Regions from separate parts of the Homo sapiens genome. Here region 2 is linked to region 1. A link means that fine-mapping ties the variant in region 1 to the expression of a gene that starts in the linked region. Tissue or cell type: whole blood. Region 1 holds a variant in brackets; the other region holds the start of a gene. All regions are shown on one strand. Distances are from middle to middle.

Evidence for each region. PIP is the estimated chance that this variant, and not a neighbour inherited with it, causes the effect.
Region 2: it holds the start of CCDC77, and the variant in region 1 is fine-mapped to the expression of CCDC77 in whole blood (TOPMed, PIP above 0.99).

The regions. Positions count from the first base shown.
Region 1 is chr12:436,755-444,937 of GRCh38, reverse strand. CCDC77 (coiled-coil domain containing 77) reads right to left here. Exons shown (of 13, transcript NM_032358.4): 10 at 6,384-6,603; 11 at 4,196-4,321; 12 at 3,942-4,094; 13 at 2,296-3,164. The coding sequence ends at 3,018. Among named protein-coding and RNA genes, the nearest start is that of B4GALNT3, 19 kb to the left of the region's middle. The variant T/C (reference allele first, on the strand shown) is at 4,311.
Region 2 is chr12:397,252-405,434 of GRCh38, reverse strand. It overlaps CCDC77 (coiled-coil domain containing 77), which reads right to left and starts at 3,791. Exons shown (of 13, transcript NM_032358.4): 1 at 3,751-3,791. It overlaps LOC105369594 (a long non-coding RNA gene), which reads left to right and starts at 4,025. Exons shown (of 4, transcript XR_007063149.1): 1 at 4,025-4,117; 2 at 4,385-4,542. RefSeq lists enhancers at 2,981-3,533, 3,948-4,267.

The sequences.
Region 1 (8,183 bases):
AACCAGTCATCTGCTTTCCATATGGATTTGCCTATTCTGGACGTTTCATGTGTATGGGAATCGTACAATATGTGGCCTTCTGTTTCTGCCTTCTTAGCAAAACGTTGCAAGGTTCCCCCTTGTAGTAGCATGTATCACTACATCATTCCTTTCCATGGCTGCTAATGTTCCATCATATGGATATACCGTATCCTGTCTATCCATTCACCAGCTCACGGACATTTGGATGGTTTCCACTTTTGGTCTATTATTAATAATACTGCTATGAACATCTATGCAGAAGATTTTGTGGGGGTGTATATTTTTATTTATCTTGGGTATATACTTATGGAGTGGAATTGCTGGGTGATATGGTAACTCTAAACTTTTCGAGGAACTGCCAGACTGTTTTTTGAAGGGGAAGCACCGTTTGACATTCTCGTCAGCAATCTATGAGGCCTCTAGTTTCTCCACATCCTTATCCAGTTGTTGCTGACTTTTTGACGACAGCCATCCTAGTGAGCGTGAAGCGGTATCGCATTAGTTTCCATTTCCTTAATGATGCTGAGCATCTTTCCACGTACTTATTGGCCATTTGTGCGACTTTTTTGGAGAGATGTCTATGCAGATCCCTGGCCCATTTTTGAATTGGGTGTGTGTTTTTTTAATTTAGTTGTAAGAGCTCTTTATATACTCTGGATACTAGATTTTCTCTTTCTTAATCCTCACAGTCACTCTGCTGAAACAGGTAGCTTTTTGTCTCTTTTACAAGCGAAGAGACTAGAGCCTGGAGAATTTTAGTAAGAGGTGTGATTGAATCCAGATCTGTGATTCTCCAAAGCCTGTACCCTTTCCACTATTTTATGCTGCTTCTTGGTGACAGAGTTTTAACCAATTGTGAGGTTTGAAGAGTGGCCACACCAGTGGGTGGTTAATATAAAGATGAATGTTATTGGAATTGAGACCAGGATGTTAGAAACATTATCAACTGATTGCTGAAGTCAATGGTAGTAGGTCTCAGAGTCATTTGTAAGTAAGTTGGATTATATGATATTTAAGGTTGCTTCTTACTCCAAAATTCTCTGATTTAATAAGCCTTTTTGTTTTGCCAGCAACAACAAAAGTAATAGTCAGGAAAAGCCAATTCCCTAAGTATTAGGACAGAAGGAAGAATCATGCACTTCTGTAAATCTCTCTGAGGCCTGGGAGCAGGGCACTCTTAAGAATTTTTGTCCCAACTGATCAATGAAAAAAACTGATCTGCTATCACAGGCTTTTTCTTTTTTTTTGAGACGGAGTCTCACTCCATCACCAGGCTGGAGTGCAGTGGCGTGATCTCGGCTCACTGCAACCTCTGCTTCCCAGGTTCAAGCAATTCTCCTGCCTCAGCCTCCCGAGTAGCTGGGATTACAGGTGCGTGCCACCACGCCCAGCTAATTTTTCTATTTCTAGTAGAGATGGGGTTTCACCATGTTGGTCAAGCTGGTCTCAATCTCGTGACCTCGTGATCCACCCACCTCGGCCTACCAAAGTGCTGGGATTACAGGCATGAGCCACCATACCTGGCTGATCACAGACTTTCTCAAGAAAGGTAACAGCTTCTGCGTGCAGTACAATCACCACCTTCCTTTACACATTGTTAACCATTTTAAATATGAAAACCTGGGTTCTCTCCTTTGTCCTGGGTAAATCAGAATGATGCTATCTTAAGCAAAGACCAACTTACTATCAAGAGGCTTTCTGGGTATGGAAACAACTATTTTGTCCCAAATGCAATTTGCCTAAAAACGGATGAAGTTTTAGTGTCATCCCCTTCGTACTAGCTTTGTTATCTCCAACACTAGATGATTTCAAAGGAGTAATTTAAAAAAACTTGTGGGCTGGGTGTGGTGGCTCACACCTGTTATCCCAGCACTCTGGGAGGCCGAGGCGGGTGGATCACCTGAGGTCAGGAGTTCAAGACCAGCCTGGCCAACATGGTGAAACCCTGACTCTACTAAAATAAAATAAAATAAAATAAATACAAAAATTAGCCGAGCATGGTGGTGAGCGCCTGTAATTACAGCTACTTGGGAGGCTGAGGCAGGAGAATCACTTCAACCCGGGAGGCGGAGGCTGCAGTGGACCGAGATCACGCCACTGCACTCCAGCCTGGGTGACGAGAGTGAAACTGTCTCAAAAACCCCCCAAAAAACCTTGTACACTTGCACAAAACTGCAGAGGCCATGGGACAAGAACGTAAACTGAGCTGCGTGAGTCATTAACGAAGCATAAATATAGTATTGAGAAGAAGTTACAGAAAACTCAAAGAAAATCTTTTGAGTGAAATATTTTATTGAAAATAGTTAATTTAAAATATATACATCATTTTTCAAAAGCCATGTGACTGATAAAAATATCAAACTTTCCATACAAGCATCATCTCAGCTTCATCCCCTCGGCAAAGTGTCTCCCGAATCTTTCCAGATGGACATTTCGTTTGAGTCTCTAGCGCCCTCTGGTGAAACACCATGAAATTGCCCAAAAACGTAATTCAGGCTCTGCTCAGGACGGAAGGTGAAATAGCAGAATGAGCGCCTATTTCAATGTGACAGGTTGTGATGTGCTGCCTTCTCCCCGAGCTCAGGAGAAAGGCAGCCTCTGTGAGTGCTTCTCTCTCTTTAGGGAAAGTATTCTTCCCATGGACACTCAGCCAAGCTTATTGCAAAATACCTTCTTCCTAAGTTTTCATCATCACTGCCTTCTGAAAAAACAAAAACCGGTCAATACAGACAGGATAAATAATGAAAGCCTCCAAGTCATTCAGGACCAGGCCCCTACTCCTCGCAAGTGTTAAAAGGACAGCAAAAATGATAAAGCAAGCTGAGTATGCAAGAAAAGCTTTCCTAGTGGTCCCCGATTCTTCAAGCTGTCTTTACAATAATGAATACCACCACTCTAGTCAACTCAGGTTTACATTTTCTGGCAGCAGATGACCTTGTCCTCAGGTTTCAAGAAGCACACCTCTTCTAAATGGGGGCCATTTCCAAAAGTAGACATTAACAGAGTCTAAGTTCATTCTCCAGACCAAACACTTTCGACTTAAGATTCTTCAGTTCTCCTTGTATCTTATGTGCCCGTCTATTGCTGTCACGGACCTCACACAGAAGGGCAAGATCCTGGTTTGCCCGGGCATTAACTGTTGCCTAGGGGTTTGAAAAAAAAAAAAAAAAAGAAATGATGATGGCATATGCCAGGGGAGCGATATCAGTCAAAAAGACACAGCTATGCTAGCTCCTTTTTGTGAGATTTTGAGTACATAGGATAAATTCCATCCTTTGTTCAGTGGCTAACTAAAGAAGGAAAATGTAGAATTAAGGCAGAAATCTCATGAAAATCCTTCCCATGCAATAAAGGAGGCTTGAGGTAGAGATCAATGCACCATGAAAGAGGAGTAAGAGAGGCCAGGATAAGCGACACTACTGGTAAGTTTGTCACAGAATGAAAGCGCAACACTACTGGTAAGTTTGTCACAGAATGAAAGCAGGCGTCTCCTCTTTTCTGCAACTAACCTTGTCTGGAACACAGGCTAACTGGCTAAATCTCATTAAGAAGACTCTTGAGGCGACTTGTATTCTAAAGAACTGTGTCTGCTGGAAAAAAGTACTCTATCACTCAATTACTCACCCTCCCCAACTGTAAGACAGACACGATTCTTTAATCTACTTCTTGAATTAGGAGGGATGACAATCTGTTTAGCTTACATCGAAGTATGAATGATGCAGTCGTTCAATGATTTCAGGGTCTTTTTATTTTCCCTCTAGCATGTTCTTGAACTAATTTTCAGGGAGGCTTGAAGATGGTGATCTGTTAGTGTTTACCAGCAGGGAAACAGCACATCCTTCTTTTCAGGGGCCCTCGTGACCATGTTCCCTCACTTACACCTCTTCTCTCCCTCGTGGCAATTCAGGACCAGCAATTACCTTATACAACATTTGCTCCAAGTCTTTCAGTTTCTGTCGGAGAACTTTAATATCTGTCTTAAAGCCTTCTACTTCCAGGATACGTCGACGCTCCAATGCCTCATAGCGTTTTGTCATTATCTGTAAACGCTTCCCCATCTTGTTAGTGCGATCCTAAATATGGGGAATGGGAAGGCATTTACGAAGGTGAGGGAAGCGTCTTCCCCAGCCATCTGCACTTCCTATTCCATTACAAGTGGCAGATAATTTCGTACCTTGAAGATCTCTCTCCTCATTCCCTCTTCCTCACGAATTCGGGCAAGTTCTTCTTCTAAGGAAATGCACTGCTCTTGGTACATATTGGACAGCTTTTTCTCTTGTACTAACTTA[T/C]CTTTTAGGGACTACAAGTCAAAGGGACAAAAAACATTAACACTCAGTTCTACAATTCAGGTAATTCAAGTAGCTTTTAGGCAAAGAAAGAAAGAAAAGAAGGGATTTCCAGAGGTACAAAATGAGTTAAGGAACCAGATGACAAGGAACTTTGAGGAACATCTGAAAATCTACTTCTAGACCAGTCTCTTAAGCCCTTTTTCTAAAGTGTACACAGTAAAAATTAAAACAAATATTTTTGGCTCTGGGAAGACTCAGATAACGGAGCTCAGAAGCTGTCCCAAGGAAGACATTACAATATATGTTTTGGGCTACATTTCTAAAGTTCTTCTTTAAAAAGGAAGAAATATTAACAACAACGCTTATTATACATGCCCTATTGAGCAGTTAAAATGATCTTTTAAAAACCCAAATCAGATCATGTTACTTATTTCACACAACCCTTCAAATACATAACACTATTGAGAGCTAAGTTCACACTCCATACGATGATGCACAAGGCCCTCCACAACTGGCTGCTGCCAATGCTGGCTTCTTAAAGAGCATACCACTTCCTCCTTATTTATTCCTCTACAACCATGATGACAGCCTTCCATTTCCTTGAACATACTCCAGGGCCTATAAACTTGCTCTTCCCTCTGCCAGGAATGTTCTTCCTCAAGGTCTGTATGGCAAGCTTAGTCCCATTTTTCAGGTCTCAGCAGAAACACTAGATATAAGAGAGTGTCCCTGTGCATTCCTTCTATTAATACAATGGACTTCCAGCAACTACATATAATTTTCATGTAATTCTTTTATTCCCTTAATACCGCATTTTATAATCTATAATTTTTTCTTTTTTTTTTTCTGAGACGGAGTCCTTGCTCTGTCACTGGGCTGGAGTGCAGTGGCGCGATCTCGGCTCACTGCAACCTCTGCCTCCCAGGTTCAAGCAATTCTCCTGCCTCAGCCTCTCAAGTAGCTGGGATTACAGGTGTCCGCCACCACGCCTGGCTATTTTTTTATATTTTTGGTAGAGACAGGGTTCCGCTGTGCTGGCAAGGCTGCTCTCGAACTCCTGACCTCGTGATCCACCCACCTCTGCCTCCCAAAGTCCTTTTTTTTTTTTGAGATGGAGTCCCACTCTGTCGCCCAGGCTGGAGTACAATCGCATGATCTCAGCTCACTGCAACCTCTGCCTCCCGGGTTCAGGTGATTCTCCTGCCTCAGCCTCCCGAGTAACTGGGATTACAGGTGCCCACCACCACGCCCCACCAATTTTTATATTTTCAGTAGAGACGGGGTTTCACCATGTTGGTCAGGCTGGTCTCGAACTCCTGACCTCAGGTGATCCACCCGCCTTGGCCTCCCAAAGTGCTGGGATTACAGGTGTGAGCCATCGCGTCTGGCCTAATCTATAATTTTCTTAGTTATTTGCTAATGTTTCTGTTTTTTCTCACCCATTAAAATGTAAACACCATGAGGGAAGACCTTGTTTAGATTACTGTAACTCTAGGGCCTAACCCATAGTACGAGTGCAATAAATATTTATGTTTTTTTGTGTTTGTTTTGAGACACAGTCTCGCACTGTCATCGGGGCTGGAGTGCAGTGGCACAGTCTCGGCTGACTGCAACTTCTGCCTCCCGGGTTCAAGCAATTCTCCTGCCTCAGCCTCCCAAGTAGCTGGGATTACAGGCACCCACCATCATGCTCAGCTAATTTTTTTTTTTTTTTTGTATTTTTAGTAGAGACGGGGTTTCACCATGTTGGCCAGGCTGGTCTTGAACTCCTGACCTCACGATTTGCCCACCTAGGCCTCCCAAAGTGCTGGGATTACAGGCGTGAACCACTGTGCCCGGCCAGGAGTACAATAAATATTTGTTGAATGAATGAATGAATGAATCAACAAGTCTAATATTTTGAATCCCCAAATACTACAACGATCAGCTGCTCTTTGAAACCTAGTTCTTGAGGCAGCTGCTACCAGAGCTTCCTGGACTGAATGGATCTTACATTACAAATTGTAGGTTCTTTGGAATTCCTTCAACTCTCCCAGAAAAATAAACAACTTCGTTACGACATAAGGACATTACCTTAATATATTCACTTTGAGCATGGTGACTCTCATGCATAACGGGCAACACTTTTCCAATTTTATCTTCTTTCTTCTTACACTGCACCCTATATTGCTTAATCTTTGACATCAAATTATCTTTTTCAAGCATCCATGACTTCTCTTTATTTTGGTTTTCAGATCTGAGTTGCAGAAAATCTTTGGTGCTCTCATAGAGCAGTTCTTGGGTGTGGTGAAGACTAGGAAAGAAAGTATAAATGCAGACATGAGGATGCGCACACAGCACACCTGAAAGCAAGGATTATTCCAAAATGGAAGAGAGTGGTTCTTTTAAAATGGTGTGATATATAAATTTTGTAAAATATTAGCAGGTTTAAAAATCTGATCACTGGCAATCTTACATGTTTTACTGGGTAAAGTATAATGTATCTACCCATGCTCACTGGTTCATAGACTGGTCTTTACAGGTACTTTCCTGAGTGCGAACTTCAGATTATATGATTAGAAGGACTACAGGGATATTTACACATAGCCTGCGTTAACTATGGACCATTCCTAGGAATAAGACAAGGAAGAACTAAATCACGGTGTTCTGACAAGTTAATACAAATTCTATAGTATCAAAAACAGCTTTGCTTTTGTGTATGCTGTGCTCCATGTAGAACTGCCTATATCAAAATCTTATCCTTTGTTTATTTTAAAAAGAACTTTTTTTTTTTTTTTTTTTTAAGACAGGGTCTTGCTCTGTCACGTAGGTTGGAGTGCAGAGGCACGATCACAGCTCACAGCAGCCCTGACCTTCTGGGCTCAAGCAATCCTTCTGTCTCAGCCTCCTAAGCAGCTGGGACCACCTCCCAGGGTGTTTGCCAGCTCATTAAAAATTTGTGTGTGTGTGGAGATGGGGTCTTGCTATGTTCCTTAGGCTTGTCTGGTCTGGAACTCCTGGGCTCATACACTCCTCTCGCCCCAGCCTCCCAAAATACTGGGATTACAAGTGTGAACCACTGCACCTGGCCTACTTTTTTAAAAATCAACTTCCTGTATGAAGTCATTTCCAACAACTTTAGCCTATTTTAATTCCTCCATTCTCTGAAACTCCATCCCAGGTTAATGTTCCCTTGTCTTATAATTCAACACTTGCTCATCTGTCATATTTTAACTGTCAACATGCACTTTTTCCCAGCCTGAGTGAAAGCATATACCTTATTTATTATTTTTGCCCCAATGCCATGAGATTGTCAAGGATAATACTAACTACTGGACATACACAGGCAGTTAACAGATTCATGGTGACTATTTCCTGAAATTTAGGAATAGACAACGTCTCTATCTTTAAAAAACAATATCCCTGGAAGTTAGCAACTCATCAGTTTAACATTACCACCCAGAAAAATGCTATACTGAATGATCTGGCTGCTTGCAAGAGTATTAAATACCATGAAGCAATCACTGTATTTTTCTACCAAACAAATAATGTGAGATCCACTTATTTTCATGAGTAACAGAGTGCACAGATAAGAGGAAATGACAGCAGAGTGCCAAGCACACAGTAGAGTAAATGTCACAAGGTGAATATATACAGTCAGGTATGTGTGCATGTGTATGTAGAGAGAGATTGATTCAATTACCACAAGGGTCTCTCTCACTTTCAATGAGTTATTTTATTCTGTCTTACATTATCTTCTCAATCTCAAACTGGGAAACTATAGGCTTGTTAAAATACAAGTAGCTTGAAAGTGATACCCAAAGGGCAGTCATTAACGGCCCTGGATTTCATGCCCTTCTTAGGAAGATCCATCTAATGGAAGGAACCGATCAT
Region 2 (8,183 bases), 40 kb after region 1:
TAATTTGTGTACACCATTAAACTCATTCAAAGTGTAAATTCAATGATTTTTAGTATATTCACAGATACGTGTACCTATCAGCACAGTCCATTCTAGAAGTTTCGTCACTTCAAGAAAAAAACCCTGTGTCCTTCAGCTATTATCCCTGTCTCCCAGTCCTAAGCAACCACTAACCTACTGTCTCTACAGATTTCCCTATTCTGGACTTTCCTATAAATGGAATCACATAGTATATGGTCTTTTGTGACTGTCTTGTTTCACTTAGCATAATGTTTTCAAGGTTCACCTATGTGGTACCATGTATCAGTACTTCATTCCTTTTTGTGGCTGAATAAAATTCCATTGTACGGATATGGGTGACAACTTAAAGTTAAATTTCACTGTTTCAAAGCCATTTAAGAGTAATTTGAAGCGGCTGGGCACAGTGGCTCCTGCCTGTAATCCCAGCACTTTGGGAGGCCGAGGAAGGCGGATCACCTGAGGTCAGGAATTCAAGACCAGCCTGACCAACCTGGAGAAACCCCATCTCTACTAAAAATACAAAGTTAGCTGGGCATGGTGGTGCATCCCTATAATCCCACCTACTCAGGAGACTGAGGCAGGAGAATTGCTTGAACCTGGGAGGCGGAGGTTGTGGTGAGCCAAGATCGCGCCATTACACTCCAGCCTGGGCAACAAGAGCGAAACTCCGTCTCAAAAAAAAAAAAAAAAAAGTAATTTGAAGCTTTGAAAGACCCTTCTAACAACCTGCAATCCCTCTTCTCCTTCATAGTGACTGTCCTCACTGTTGCACATGTCTACGAAAAGTTGTCTACACTCACCTCTCTGGCTGCAAGACGGGGCCTTGCTATGTTGCCCAGGCTGGCCTTGAACTCCCGGACTCAAACAATCCTCCTCCCTTGGCCTTCCAAAGTGCTGAGATTACAGGCATGAGCCACTGAGCCAGGCCTCGGGCTTCTACTATGACATCTAACCAAGCTCTTATTGGTCAGCAGACATCCAAATTAATAAATTCAATTGCTCTTTTCTGTTTCTATCCTCCTCCATCCAATAGTTACTCCTTCACTTGTATTCTTAATTAGATAGTGCCAACTACCTATTTATTTATTTATTTTTTGAGACAGAGTCTCACTCTGTTCAGCCCAGGCTGGAGTGCAGTGGCACGATCTTGGCTCACTGCAACCTCCACCTCCTGGGTTCAAGTGATTCTCCTGCCTCAGCCTCCCCAGTGGCTGGGATTACAGGCACCTGCCACTGTGGCTAATTTTTTTTGTATTTTTAGTAAAGACAGGGTTTCGCCATGTTGGCCAGGCTGGTCTCGAACTCCTGACCTCAGATGATCCACCCACCTCTGCCTGCCAGTGTTGGGATTACAGGCGTGAGCCACTGTGCCTGGTAGTGCCAACTACCCTTTAAAAATATATCACTTTGGGACCGGACCTTGGCATGGCCAGGCCATGGCAAGACCCTGTCTTTACCAAAATTTTAAAAATTAGCTGGGCACAGTGGCAATGTAGTCCCACCTGCTTGGTGCGAGGATCACTTCAGCCTGAGGGTTCAAGGCTGCAGCGAGCAGTGATCGTGCCACTGCACTCTAGCCTGGACAACAGCGCAAGACCCTGTCTCAAAAAACAATTAAAATAGGCTGGGCACAGTGGCTCATGCCTGTAATGCCAGCACTTTGGGAGGCCAAGGTGAATGGACTGCTGGAGGTCAGGAGTTTGAGACCAGCCTGGGCAACATGGTGAAACCCTGTCTCTACAAAAATTACAGAATTAGCTGGGAGTGGTGGCACGTGCCTGTAGTCCCAGCTATTCAGGAGGCTGAGGCAGAGGATTGCTTGAGCTTGGGAGGCAGAGGCTGCACTGAGCTGAGATTGCCCCACTGCTCTCCAGCCTAGGTGACAGAGTGAGACCTTACCTGGAAAAAATAATAATAAAAATAAATATTGCTTTGTAGTTGAGAATGTGGGCTCTGATATCAGACTTGGGTTTGAGTCAAAGCCCTGCCTCTTATTAGCTGTGTACCTCAGGCAAGTTATCCTCTCTAAATTTCAGTTACTTCTATGTCATAGGTTGGTGTACGGATATAAGGCCGAGGGACAGTGTTTGACACATATATAAGCACTCAGTAAATGTGGACTATTATTATTATTGACAATTTTACTCCCTTGGCTCAGAGGTTCTGTCTTCAAGTTTCTTTATCATTTCCTCTAACCATTTCTTTGGGAACATCATTATTCCTCCTGTTTTTATTATTAACTCTGTCATCTAAAACACTACATGGCATACAGTAAGTAACAATTACATGTTGAATAAATAAACGACATCTCTTTCAACCTCTTGATTTGAATTAACAAAAATGTAGTGGACATTTTCACCCATAGTCCCACTGGCACTTGAAACGTTTAACTTAAAAAAGAAATCACTCAAGTTAGGTATTTTTTTAGCATCTCAAAGCTAACATTTCCTAAACCTAACACATCATCTTTTTATCCAAACATGCCCCTTCTGACTTTCCTATTTTAGTTACTAATTCAGCGTTTCCAAGCAACCGGGAGTTGGCAACTTAAATTCATCATTTGATCACTCATTCTTCTGAACCTCCTGTCTAACCATATGAATATCTTGTATATTTTATCTCCACAATGACCATGTTAATTCAGAGTCTCAATACTTCTTACCCACACCATTACAACACCTTAACGGTTCTACCTACTCCTTGCGTCTCCTGGACCATTTTCTTTAATAAAATACATCAGTAGCACCTCATAGCCTAAAGCATTAAATCCAATTTGTTAGCCTAGAATTCATGGCTTTCTACATAAGGGCCAAACCTAACTTTCCTGCCTTATTTCTCTCTACTCTCCTAAATGTACCGTTTCCAGATAACTTTCCTGCCTCCATACCTTTGTTCATGAGCTTCCCTCTAGCTGGAACACAACTCCCTCCACAACCCTCATAATTTCACTTAACAAAATCTAGTCTGTACATGAAAACTCATCTTAAATACCACCTCCTTTTTCTCTTTCCTGAGTCTCCCCATCCAAAATGATTTAGCAAAAATGATCTAAGTGCAAAAGAACTGCCTTTGAAATTATCTACAAGTCAACATATTAGAGTGCTTTATTGCTATCGTTTCTCCCATGCTAGCGTGCGCTCCCTACAGACAGAAATCGCGTCTTACTCTTCATTGCCTCTTCCAAAGGAACAATGCCTTTGTTTATAGGTAAATTAACGGGTTTCAGCTAGGGTCTCTGCACCTATCTCCAATACCCTTGCTTAGATATATTCTTATAGCTTGTCTACTAACAATTAACATTTGTGTAGCACTTTGAATTTTTTTCTTTTAGCCACGTGACAAATCTGTACAATTTATTATCCCAACAACCGTTCAGTATTTTCACTATCCCTTATTTCACAAATGAGGAAACTGAGAGCTAGACCAGCGTGGGGTTAGAGTACACCGGAACGCATCTCCAGGGCGCCCGAATCCCGTACTCCTTTTCCCACTTCATCCCATTCTCGACCGCCTCACTGCTCCAGGTCCCAACGCTCCAGCACTCCTGAGGTCTCTCCCTTTGCACATTGGAGCTTTCCTCCTCCGGTCCCCAGCCCCTCCACGGACACCACATTCAGGCTCACGTCCTCTCCTCCGCACTGCTTCCGCAGTTACTTCTCCCTAACCAGATTTTCTTCCCAAGGCTTCTTACCTAACCCCTTCACCCCAAACCCGAAACTCTATACTCACGACACACTAAGACTCCGAGTCAGGGAACGCAACTGAAAAACAAAAGTCAAACCAAGGAGCGGCGCGGCGCCACTGAGCGTCCCTGAATCCGTGCAATCGCGAAGAAGTTTACATGGCCCTTTGGAATGCGCACCAATGGGAAGGGCCTTCACACAGAGGCCCGCCCCCATCTCGCCCCTCCTCGCGGTGCTCCCGACCGCGCAGAGGTCTCTGGGAAATGTAGTTTTCTTCTGCCTGGAGCTCTGCGCGGGGCGACGCAGCTGGGCTGCAACCCGCTCCTCCAGGGACGGGTAGTGTGACGTTTGGGGTCAGAACGCACCACTTTCGGGCACCCCCACTTAAGATTGCTCAACTGCTTTGAGCTCAGGTACTTCGCGTTCATGGTACATATATGTTGTAATTTCCAAGCTTGTCTCAAGAGATAAAGATTCTAAGAAAAGTTTCTTCTTCCATGACCGGGTGGCCTAGAGCCAGGATAGGACCTGAGGTTCAGTTTCTACGGTCAGGGGACTATGTATTAAAATTCTACTATTTGTTCCATAGCAAACACTGCTTCCTTTTCCGGAGAAATGTAAGACACTGGGCTTTAATGATAAAAGCAAGTTCAAAATCCATTATGGTCTTATCTTTCCAGAAAGCAAGGTGTAAAGGTGGGGGAAAAGCACTTTCGTCTCAGAATTACAGCTACTGGTATGGAAAAGCTGGGGCCCTTCGCTGGTGTGAGTCCTAAGGATGTCTAAATGGAACGTGCATCTGCTACAGGCTCGCACTTTCCTTTATTGCGCTTCCCAGGTAACTGTTTTTACAAATGTAAGGTTTGTGGCAACTCTGCATGGAACCAAATCTATCTGCGCCATTTTTCCTACAGCACAGGCTTACTATGTGTCTCTGCACCACATTTGGTAATTTTCACAATATTTCAAACTTTTTCATAATTATTGTATATGTTATGCTGATCTGTTATCCTTTATATTACTATTATAATTGTTTAGGGGCACCATGAACCATGCCCATATAAGATGGCAAACTTAATTCATAAATGTTGTGGATGTTTTAACTGCTCCACAGACCAGCAGTCTCCCTGCCTTTCTCCCTCTCTTCTTGCCTCCTTATTCCTGTGATACAACAATATTGAAATTAGACCAATTAACAATCCTACAGTGGGGGTTCAAGTGAAAGGAAGAGTCACACATCTCTTACTTTAAATAAAAAGCTGAAAATGATTAAGCTCAGTGAAAAAGGCATGTTGAAAGCCAAGACAGGATGAAAGCCAGTCTTCTTGCACCAAAGTTAGCCAAGTTGTGCATGCAAAGGAAAAGTTTTTGAAGGAAATTAAAAGTGCTACTCCAGTAAACACAAAAATGATAAGAAAGTGAAACAGACATTGCTGATATAGAGAAAGTTTGAGTGGTCTGGATAGAAGATCAAACCAGCCACAGCATTCCCTGAAGCCAAAGCCTAATCTGGAGCAAAGTCCTAACTCTTCAATAAAATGAAGGCTGAGACAGGTGAGGAAGCTGCAGAAGAAAAGGTGGAAGATAGCGGAGGCTGGTTCGTGAGGTTTAAGGAAAGGAGCTATTTCCGTTACTTAAAAGTGCAAGGTGGAAGCAGCAAGTGCTGATGTAGATGCCGCAGCAAGTTATTCAGAAGAGCTAACTAAGGTAATTGATTAAGGTGGCTAAACTAAACTACAGACTTTTGATATATATGAACCAGCCTTTTATTGGAAGGAGATGCCAAGTAGTACTTTTGTAGCTAGAGAGAAGTCAATACCTGGCTTCACAGCTTCTAAGAACAGACTGACTCTCATGTTAGGGGCTAATGCAACTGGTGACTTTAAGTTGAAGCCAGTGCCCATTTACATCCCTGAAATCCTAGAGCCCTTAAGAATTATGTTAGATATAGTCTGCCTGTGCTCTATAAATGGAACAACAAAACCTGGATGACAGCATATATGTTTATAGCATGGTTAACTGAGTATTTTAAGTTCACCGTTTTATGTATGTTTTATTTTAAGTCCTACTGCTCAGGAAAAAAAGGATTTCTTTCAAAATATTACTTCTCACTCACAATGCAACTGGTCACCCAAGAGCTCTGGTGGAGGTATGCAAACAGATGAATGTTGCTTTCATGCTTGCAAACACAACAGACATTCTGCAGCTCATGGATCAAGGAGTCATTTTGACTTTCAGGTCTTATTAAGAAATATATTTCAGGCCGGGCACGGTGGCTCACATCTGTAATCCCAGCACTTTGGGAGGCTGAGGTGGGCGGATCACCAGGTCAGGAGATCGAGACCAGCCTGGCCAACATGGAGAAACCCCCGTTTCTACTAGAAATACAAAATTAGCTGGCCATGATGGCGCATGCCTGTAATCCCAGCTACTCAGGAGGCTGAGGCAGGAGAATCACTTGAACCTGGGAGGCGGAGGTTTCAGTGAACTGAGATCGTGCCATTGCACTCCAGCTTGGGCAACAAGAGTGAAACTCCGCCTCAAAAAAAAAAAAATATTTCATAAGGCTATAGCTGCCAGACATAGTGATTTCTCTGGTGGATCTGGGCAAAGTAAATCGAAAACCTTCTGGAAAGGACTCACCACCATTCTAGATGTCCTTAAGATCATTTGTGACTTGGCTTGGTGAGATGTCTCACACCTGTAAACCCAGCACTTTGGAAGGCCAACGTGGGTGGATCACTTAAGCTCAGGAGTGCATGACAAGCCTGGGCAACATAGAAAACCTTGTCTCTATAAAAAAATACAAAAACTAGCCAGGAGTGGTGGCATGCACCTGGCTACTTGGGAGGCTGAGGTGGGAGGATTGCTTGAGCCTGGGAGACCAAGGTTGCAGTGAGCCGAGATTGTGCCACTGCAGTCCAGCCTGAGTGACAGAGCAAGACTGTGTCTCAAAAAAAAAAAAGTAAAAATATATTTAATAAAAAAATTTTAAAAAGAACATTTGTGACTTATGGGAGGAGGTCAATATCAATAATAACAGGAGTTTGGAAGAAGTTAATTCCAATCCTCTTGGATGTCTTTGAGGGGGTTCAAGACTTCATGGACGAAATAACTGCAGATGCTGTGGAAGTAGCAAGAGAACTAGAATTAGAAGTGGAGCCTTGGGAGGCTGAGGCAGGAGAATCGCTTGAACCCGGGAGGCAGAGGTTGCAGTGAGCCCAGATCGCGCCACTGCAGTCCAGCCTGGGCAACAGAGCAAGATTCTGTCTCAAAAAAAAAAAAAAGTGGAACCTGAAGATGTGACTGAATTGCTGCAATCTCATGATGAAACTATGGATGAAGAGTTGCTTCTTATGAATAAGTAAAGAAAGTGGTTTCTTTAGCTGGAATCTACTCCTGGTGAAGATGCTGTGAACATTGCCAAAATGACAACAAAGGGTTTAGAATATTCCATAAACTTAGTCGATAAAGCAGTTGCAGGGTTTGAGGATTGACTTCAACTTTGAAAGAAGTTCTACTATGGGTAAAATGCTATCAAACAGCATTGCATGCTACAGAGAAATCTTTCATGAAAGGAAGAATCAATCAATATCATGAAAGGAAGAATGAAAACAACTTCATTGTTGTCTTATTTTAAGAAATTGCCACAGCCACCCCAGCCTTTAGCAATCAGCACCATGATCAGTCAGCAGCCCCCAACATCAAGGCTAGACCCTCCATCAGTGAAAATATTATGACTTGGCTTAGACGATCATTAGCATTTTTAGAATAAAGTATTTTAAGGCCAGTCGCGGTGGCTCACGCCTGTAATCCCAGCACTGCAGGAGGCTGAGACGGGCGGATCACGAGGTCAGGAGATGGAGACCATCCTGGCTAAGACAGTGAAACCCCATCTCTACTAAAAATACAAAAAATTAGCCGGGCGTGGTGGCGGGCGCCTGTAGTCCCAGCTGCTCGGGAGGCTGAGGCAGGAGAATCACTTGAACCCAGGAGGCAGAGGCTGCAGTGAGCTGAGATCGCGCCACTGCACTCCAGCCTGGGTGACAGAGCAAGACTCTGTCTCAAAAAAAAAAAGCATTTTAAATTAAGGCATGTAAATTTTTTTAAAGAAATAATGCAAACTAGAAATAATGCACTAGACTACAGTATCGTGTAAACACATAGCTTTTTTTATGTACCAGGAAACCGAAAATTTCGAGCAATTTGCTTTATGGTGATATTCACTTTATTATGGTGGTCTGGAACTGAACCTGCAATATCTCCAAGTTATGCCTGTACTCCCAAACCTGCTTTTTTCTCCCTTGTGATTTTCTCTGTTAATTACATTAATATCTTCCCAAACATCTCGGCTCGGTATCTTTTGTCTATTTCCTTTCTTTTAGCCCCTGCAATTTTTAAAAAATCAAGTCATGGTGAGCCTGTCTTCATATATATCTTCCTATTTATTTCCACTATGTGTCTTATTACCTTTCACTT